Linked DNA regions of Homo sapiens: region 1 is reported to be linked to region 2. The links are microRNA targets in miRTarBase. Many come from high-throughput screens and were not tested one by one. Region 2 holds a microRNA gene; the other region holds the end of a gene's coding sequence.
What was found. The annotated mature microRNA hsa-miR-5089-5p reads GUGGGAUUUCUGAGUAGCAUC and lies in region 2 at 2,723-2,743, shown strand. An mRNA with a match to its seed (bases 2 to 7 or 8) in the 3' UTR can be bound and repressed. Matches are read on the target gene's strand: a 7mer-m8 pairs with bases 2 to 8, a 7mer-A1 pairs with bases 2 to 7 and ends in A, and an 8mer does both.

Region 1 (4,391 bases), not on the chromosome of region 2:
ATTTTTACTTCCCGCAGAAAGGGTACATTCGCCAGCAGTTTTGCCACGAGAGTACACCGAACAAAGAGACAGGGTCATTTGTAACCTGATGCGTCCACCCTACTGCTGTGTCCGGTTTCCATTGGCTGGAACGGGACCTCATATTCTGTATTTGTCCTGATTGGGAAGCAACTTAAAACTTTTTAAAAGAGGCGAAGGCAGAAGAGAACAAAGGAAGGAGAAAGTAACTTGTGGAATGGTGAGAAAGGTAAACACTTTTAAATAAGGAAGAGGAACAGGCTATGACCTAATGCTTGCTCCGACCAGTGTAAGCATGCCAGGACAAATATTTAGGCTAAATTGTGGGAGCTAAGAACATAAAGTACATTGATTTCTTTACCACGGCTAGCAGATAATTAGGAATGTTAGCACAGGTCTTTGAATAAATTTTGCTTCGAAGAGAAGTTACCGTTTATTCCAAATTAAATGGGGAGGAAAGTCTTTGGAGAGGAACCTCTACTTTACCTTTTACAAGAGGTAGGAGATGCCTGTTCAAACTGTATTTTCCCATCTGACACGGAAACATTTTGGTGATATCATTAGCACAGTTGGCTGGGGAAAGAATGTGTTTGCTAAGTCAGAGGTAGGGATAAAGTGAAGTTGCATTATGGGTGTATTTTAAGTGCAGCAAACTTAAGTGTATGCTAGGAAAAAAAAATAGCAGCAGCAGTTTTTAAAAAAAAAATTTTTTTTTTTTTAGATGGAATCTCCCTCTGTTGCCTAGGCTAGAGTGCAGTGGCTTGATGTTGGTTCACTGCAATCTCTGCCTCCCAGGTTCAAGCGATTTTCCCAGCTTAGCCTCCCGAGTAGCTGGATTACAGGAGCGTGCCACCACACCCAGCTAATTTTTGTATTTTTAGTAGAGATGGGATTTTACCATGTTGGTCAGGCTGGTCTCCAACTTCTGACCTCAGGTGACCCAGCCGCCTTGGCCTCCCAAAGTGCTGGGTTTACAGGCGTGAGCCACCACGCCCGGCCAGAAGCAGTATTATTGAGTTGGCCTGTTACCCCATGGTTAGGCCATTCTCAGTTCGTAGGTGCTTATCCTGTGGGCTTTTGGTGGGTGCTACAGGAATCTTTTTCATAAAGTACGGCTCCTAACTTCAAGCTACTTCATATGGTGCTCACTGGAAGAATTATCTGCTCTGGTGCCAGGGAAAAAATGGGCTGCACTGGATGTGTTGAGAGTCCACGTGGTGGTCTCTGACAGTGCCTCCCAAAGGGATTTTAATTCTTACTCTATACCTTAGGCCCTAAATACCTGCAATGAGAATTTGCTTTGCTGAGCAGTAGACAAAGACAAATGAGAGAGACTTGTCTTTCTTTGATGCAGGCATGAGGCGAATTCTCAGCCATGACAAGGCTGAAGGCCAGCAGGAACAGGCTCTAGCGAAATGGGTGCTGTGTCCCCTTCCTGCATGTGGCAGAAAGTTGCAAAGGTATGAGAGAGGAGACAAACGGAAACCATTCTCCCTTATCTCCAGCTCCAAATTTCCCCTCCCACTCTTACTGGTTTCTTAGGTGTTGTTCTAGAGCCTTTATTTTCTACAGGGCGTTTGGGCTGGGGAAGGGTCCTGTACACTCGCAACAGGAGGTGTAGAATGAGCCCTGCATTGAATGTGTAAGCATCCAAAGCTGTCACTGAGGTGAGAAGAGCCTTCATTGGCAGCCTCAAAGAGAAAGGTGTGCTTGGATGTATGCACTGGACATGCCACCTAGGCCTACTGGACATGCCGCCTAGGCCTGCTGGACAGACTGCACAACTGAGGCCCTGCAACTGGCAATCTCCCAATGGCTTTCTCACCTCTCAGCATTTTTCCCTATTTGTTTTCTACGTGGACTCCAGAAGAGTTCTAACAAGCCAAGCTATAAAGCATGGCTTTAAAAGAAAAACAACTGTAAGGTAAAATCCAGCTTAAGTGACGTAAATTTACAAGCAAATCAGATTCTGGAACCTCACCTTTACAAATCTTGCAAATCAACGTGCAGGGAATGTGTTTGTTTCTACATCAGAGGCACAACTGGGCATCATACAGCCTAGAAGCTAATAGAGCACATGGACAAGGAACAGAGCCTTTAGCTCTTCCAACCCTCTTATTTTCTCTCTTTTTTTTTTTTTTTTTAGACAGTCTTGCTCTGTTGCTCACGCTGGAGTGCAATGGCGCAATCTTGGCTCACTGCAACCTCGCCTCCCAGATTCAAGCAATTCTCTTGCCTCAGCCTCCCAAGTAGCTGGGATTACAAGCGTGTGCTGCCACGCCTGGCTAATTTTTGTATTTTTAGTAGAGATGGGGTTTCACCATGTTGGTCAGGCTGGTCTCAAACTCCTGACTTCCATGATCCGCCTGCCCCAGCCTCCCAAAGTGCTGGGATTACAGGCGTGAGCCACCATGCCCGGCCCTTGTTTTCTCTTACTGTCTTGAGCTGACATGGGGATAACTGACTTTTAAGTGTCACTGGGCAGCAGCTTCCCAGCAGATGGCAAGTTGCCAAGAAATGCTATTAATGTTTGACTCCATTCTCCAGTTCTCCATAAAAATTGACTTTACTAATTACAAAAAAAATTTTATTATTACAAAACATACAATCTCACAAAGGTACAATTTGAAATACGGGGACACCCTTCTAACTACCACCCAGGTGAAGAAACAGAACTTTGTCAGGCACCCCAGAACCCCTCCAAGTGCCTCATCACAATGACAACTCCTTCCCTCTAGAAGTAGCCATTATTCTTGTATAGTACTGACTGTGTTTCTTTATGGTTTTATCTTATTTTTTAGAGACAGGGTCTTGTTCTGTCACACAAGAACAAGTGGACAGGTGGAGTGCAGTGGTGTTCATAGCTCACTGCAATCTTGAGCTCCTGGGCTCAGGTGATCTTCCTGTCTTAGCCTCCCAAGGTGCTGGGATTATAGGCGTGTGTCATTGCACTTGAACTAGTTTTATTTTTTTTTTGAGATGGGGTCTCGCTCTGTCACCCAGGTGTTGCCCAGGCTTGAGTGCAGTGGCGCGATCTCAGCTCACTGCAACCTCCGCCTCCCAGGTTCACGCAATTCTCCTGCCTCGGCCTCCCGAGTAGCTGGGATTACAGGTGCCCGCCACCATGCCTGGCTAATTTTTTGTATTTTTAGTAGAGACGGGGTTTCACCATGTTGGCCAGGCTGGTCTCAAACTCCTGACCTCAAGTGATCCGCCCGCCTCGGCCTCCCAAAGTGCTGGGATTACAGATGTGAGGCACCGTCCACCGTGCCCAGCCGAGTTTTATTCTTGAATCGTGCATGTCTCTGTTCACTACAGTTTAGTGCACCATTTAAATAAATTTGTTGTCTTTTAAGTTCATCAAAAATATTTCTTTTGAAGCACTATAATAATGCTGGTGATGGAACTCGCCACCATTATTCCCTGGGAGCTTCTGGCAGATTCTGTCAGTTGGAATCTCTAATTCTTTTCTCAGTGGACCTTTTTACTTGACTCCCACAGTTCTTTAAGTAGCTTCTTTTTTTCCAGGGTTTCCTTTGCTCTTTTTTTCCTTTCTTGTTTTTTCTTCGCCGCTTCTCGTTTTTCTTTGTGAACAGGACTGTTTTCACCATTGTAGAAAACATCTACTTTCTCTTGTAGGATTTTCCGAGCTAGCTTTCTGTTCTGATCAACTGATCTTGTCTGATGGCACTGTAAGAGATAATATTTTATAATGTGAAAACCACAGGATGTTAAAAATGGACAGGACCTCAGAAGTCATTAAATTCAACCTGTTCGCTTTTTTATTTACTATTTATTTATTTATTGAGACAGAGTTTCGTTCTTGTCATCCAGGCTAGAGTGCAATGGTGTGATCTTGGCTCACTGCAACCTCCGCCTCCTGGGTCCAAGTGATTCTCCTGCCTCAGCCTCCCAAGTAGCTGGGATTATAGGCGCACGCCACCATACCCAGTTAATTTTTGTATTTTTAGTAGAGATGGGGTTTCACCATGTTGGCCAGGCTGGTCAGGACAACCTGTTCGCTTTATAGAGAGGGACAAACCTGGATGGCAAAGCCCCTTATCAGGAGTCCCCATGAGTCAGTGACAGTGAAGACCAGCCCCTTTCCTGCCTCTGCCCTGTGTCCCATACCCTTGCTGTATTATGTGGCTTTCAGTGTGATTGTTTTAATCATTAGGAGTGCTATTTTGTTTAGAAGCAACAGTGGCCTTCAAATAACTTAAAGTCGCAAAATAATTATGAAAGTATCAACTGATGTATCTAGCTTGTGGCCAGTTAACAACCACTTTGTGTGCACCATTCATAAGCATAAAGTTCTGTCTGAAGGAAGAAAATAGCATCTTTATTATTAGTCAGCCATAACTCATTCACTG
Region 2 (4,391 bases):
CCGAGGTGGGTGGATCACCTGAGGTCAGGAGTTCAAGACCAGCCTGGCCACAATGGTGAAACCCTGTCTCTACTAAAAATGCAAAAATTAGCTGGGAGTGGTGGTGGACACCTGTTATCCCAGCTACTTGTGAGCTGAAGTAGGAGAATTGCTTGAACCTGGGAGGCACAGGTTGCAGCAAGCCGAGATCAAGCCACAGCACTCTAGCCCAGGCGACACAGACTCCATCTCAAAAAAAAAAAAAAAAAAAAAAAAACTCAAGACAGCAGAGGAGAGACGCTGCAACATGAGGACTCCAGCCACAATCAGTCGTCAGCTGAGCTTTTGCATCAAAGCCTGTCTGCGAGGCAGGGGTGTGCACTGGAGCCGCTCCACTCACGTGGACGGGGGCTCAGAGACCCGGAAACAGCATTATGCCCCATAATAGGGGATCAGTGATGTTTGCATAAAAGAGAACCAGGTACAAGCCTGAGAAGGATGGCTTATGTGGATATTAGTTACTGACATGAACCTTTGTCATCATACACTGATAAGTGAAAAACAGTATCACGGTATACGTTCAAAGTGGTGCATATGCTAGAATAACATTTTCTGGAGAAAATCTCAAACCTAATTCTATCGATCCCTCAAAATATGAAAGGCTGCATGCCAAAGGATTAATAGTGATTCCTTCTAGGTTGCAGGAATGTGGCTACTGTTTGCCAACATTTTTCTTTTTTTTGTTGCTATAAATGTTAATTACTTGTATCATCGCTTTAAAACATAGGCCGGTGCGGTGGCTCATGCCTGTAATCCCAGCACTTACAGTGGATCATTTGAGGTCAGGAGTTTGAGACCAGCGTGGCCGACATGGTGAAAACCCATCTCTACTAACATATAAAAATGAGCCAGGCATGGTGGTGGGTGCCTGTAATCTCAGCTACTTGGGAGGCTGAGGGAGGAGAATCACTTGAACTTGGGAGGCAGAGGTTGCAGTGAGCTGAGATCGCACTACTGCACTCCAGCCTGGGCAACAGAGCGAGACTCCTTCTCAAAATTAATTAATTAATTAATTAAAAAGGAAAAATATAATAAGGACACACTCCATGGCTTCTGCAGTCTCTTCTGAGCTGATAGTCAAGGTCCTGGCATGGCTTGGCTCTCCTCCAGTGCTGGGTTAGGGGCTCTGTGACCCAGTGCCCCACCCTAGCCTGGCCTAACTATATCCTTTGCTGACCTTGAACCCCACACAGATCCTGGCAAAGCTGCATGGCTCCATGAATACATGTATGTACATGTAGGAGCTTTTCATGCACTTTCTCACTTAAACTTTCCAACCACCTAGAGAGCTCAGCTAGAGTACCTCACTTTACAGATGAAGAAACAGGCCTTGGAAGGTGAAGCGACTTTCTCTGATGACTGGAAAGTGTGGAGGGAAGTCCTGCACCCCGACCTGCCTGTATCAAAGACTTGTCTCTCACGCCTCAAGCTCTGTGGTTCTGTGCACACCTCACCAGGCCCCCACTCACCCATCTAACATGTGTTTGTTCTGTGTGCATGTTTTTCTTCTGTGTTCTGGGCCACACCTGTTGGGCACCTCTCCCTCCCCGGCAAGGGGGAAGCTTTAGGAAGTAGAGAGAAAGGCAGGGCACAGGGCCTGGCTCTGAGGAAGGGTCACACTTACAGCCAGGCCTGGGGCTGGTGGGGTAGGCAGAGGGCACAGGGCACGTGGGGGAGAGGGGGGACCTTCCCAAGACAGGGAACTGTCTCAACCATAATCACCCTCAGTGTTGCTGCTTCCCCGCTTTATGTTCTATAGAGACACCCGGAGGGGACAGCCTGCTGTGGTGGGCACTGTGCTGGGCCCAGGCTGTGTGCTGACAGAACCCTGGGGCTGGGCTGGGGCAGGAGGCGAGACCCTGGCTTCCTGCTTTGCTTCTCCCGCCACCCGCTTCTTCCTCCTCTCTTCCCTTCTCCTTCCATCCCATCTTCTCCCTGCTGTCCTTTCATATGCTTCCTCTTCCCCCTTCTTTCTCCTCCTCCTCCTCTCCCTTCTTCATTTCTAGTCCAGCTATAGTGGGAAGAAGTCCCTGCAAGGAGCTCTGGCTCTTGGCCAAGAGGGAAGGAGAACCTGGGACAGGAAAGGATTCCCAGCAAAGGGTTGCACACTGGGCACCCCGAGCCCTTGCTGAACCTCAGCTTTGGAGCACAAGGTGGAATTCAGGTTTGTCAGCCTCCCCAGCTCAGCAGGGAACCAGCAGTCTGCACAATGTGACCGTTGGTGACGGATGTTGGCCTCTGCCCATCTGGCTGCATTGCTGTCAACATACAGGTTCCATGTCCCGGGCTTTCTGCCCAGGCACTCCCCTGCAAAGTGAGCCCCAGGAGAAACCCGGGTTTACAGCTGCTCTGTAGCCCCAAACCCTGTACCCCACTGGCTGACGCTGGCTACCCAAAAAGAAATTATTGAGGCACAGAGGATGGCAGCACTCAATCTCCCGTGTGGACGAGCGTCTCTGCAGTCATATTATTAGCATCTCGAGGGCAGAGCCTGAGTTGCCTTCACCTCTGCAACTTCCTTAGCACCCAGCATTAGGAGAGCGACATAAGACACACCTAAAAAATACTGGCACTGACATGCAAACCTAGGTCTTGTACGTCAAGTTTATTAGGAGTGTAAAACTTCTTGTAGTATTCCCTCTAACTTAGCCAGGTGGGAAAGTGTCAAATAAAAAGGACTTCAGTGGGATTTCTGAGTAGCATCCTTGGAATCTGCACTCAAGGGATGCTACTCGGAAATCCCACTGAAGTCCTTTTAATTAAATGTGTGTGCATGTGTGCAACCCACATGTGTACACGTATACCTTGCCCCCAAAACTGGAATGCCGGATGAGGGCCATTTCTGCTGTACCCACTGCCTCTGCCACTCATTAGCTGAGTGTGACCTTGAGCCCATTATCTAACCACACAACCAGATGACAATCTCATATGACAGCTGGCTTGCTCACTCTCACTCTGCTGCTGCTTTTTTCTTTTTCTTTTCTTTTTTCTTTTTTGCCATATAGATGGGGGTCCCACTGTGTTGCCCAGGCTGGTCTCGAACTCGTGGGCTCAAGTGATTCGCCCACCTTAGCCTCCCAAATTACTGGGATTACAGGGATGAGCCACCACACCTAGCCTCTGTTGCTTCGTTGTTGAAAATTGTTGAGATCTAGCGTTCCCCATGGGTTAAACTCTCCTTATCCATGGACTGGAGTGCACTTATCATGGGATCTCAAGTCTAAGTAATAGAACTATGACTGCAAGGGTGAGCAGGCGCTGCCTCAGAACACCCCGCAATGCTGTCATCTCAGAGGCTGGGACACCTGCCCCGTCTGCCGAGCTGGGGTTTGCTGTCCTGGACACCCCGTGTATCTGCTGTGATCTTTATTGACAAGAAAGAATCTTGCTTTCTTGACAAGAATCTGCACTCAAGAGATACTACTCGGAAATCCCACTTAAGTCCTTTTTATTAAATGTGTGTGCATGCGTGCGACACATGTGTACACGTATACCTTTCCCCCAAACTGGAATGCTGGATGGGGGCCATTTCTGCTGTACCCGCCACCTCGCATGCTCCATTCTTTGCCTCTGAAGCCACCCCCAAAGCTCAAGGCTTCTTTCCATCTACTACTGAGTTGGGGTCTGGGGAGGGCGACCCCCAGCAGCCACAGCCGTGCACCCCTCTATGTGAACTTGGCTTAGACAAGTAAGTAAGAAAGTAAGTGGATGTGGTGATGTAAGCCCTCCCTACTTCCCCCGTTCTAGGGGACATCTTGCTGGTGAAGGCACAGCTGACCCCAGAAGTACTATCCCCGACTCAGAGGACAGGATGTGGGGGATTTGACCTAGGCCCTGAGACGCATGGAACCAGCTACCTGGGGAGCAAAGCAAGTGCCAGGGTTTCTGGGGCGCTGGCCAGGGCCAGACGCTAGGTCTGCCATCCGTTGCTCACCCAGTGCCTGGCACAGTGCCTAGCCCACAGGAGATTTACAATAGACACCGGTGGAATGAATGAGCTTGGACAAGATCAGTAAACAGAATCTTAATTTCCTCTCCTATAAACAGGAAATTAGAGGAGCATCTGCTCCTCTTACCAATGTGTTGTGGGGAGCAAAGGAGGTCATCTCCGCCGGGCGCGGTGGCTCACGCCTGTAATCCCAGCACTTTGGGAGGCCGAGGCGGGTGGATCACAAGGTCAGGAGATCGAGAGCATCCTGGCTAACACGGTGAAACCCCGTCTCTACTAAAAATACAAAAAATTAGCTGGGCGTGGTGGCGGGCGCCTGTAGTCCCAGCTACTCGGGAGGCTGAGGCAGGAGGATGGCGTGAACCCGGGAGGCAGAGCTTGCAGTGAGCCCAGATCGCACCAC

Region 1: the mRNA of MTRFR is a reported target of hsa-miR-5089-5p. Seed matches in the 3' UTR shown: 7mer-m8 at 3,256-3,262, 7mer-m8 at 3,120-3,126 and 7mer-m8 at 2,944-2,950.

Annotation. Positions count from the first base shown.
Region 1 is chr12:123,256,130-123,260,520 of GRCh38, reverse strand. It overlaps MTRFR (mitochondrial translation release factor in rescue), which reads right to left. Exons shown (of 3, transcript NM_152269.5): 3 at 2,561-3,708. The coding sequence ends at 3,490. Among named protein-coding and RNA genes, the nearest start is that of CDK2AP1, 14 kb to the left of the region's middle.
Region 2 is chr17:46,970,305-46,974,695 of GRCh38, forward strand. MIR5089 (microRNA 5089) reads left to right here and starts at 2,713; the gene lies at 2,713-2,796. It also overlaps a transcript of LRRC37A2 not described here and a transcript of GOSR2 not described here.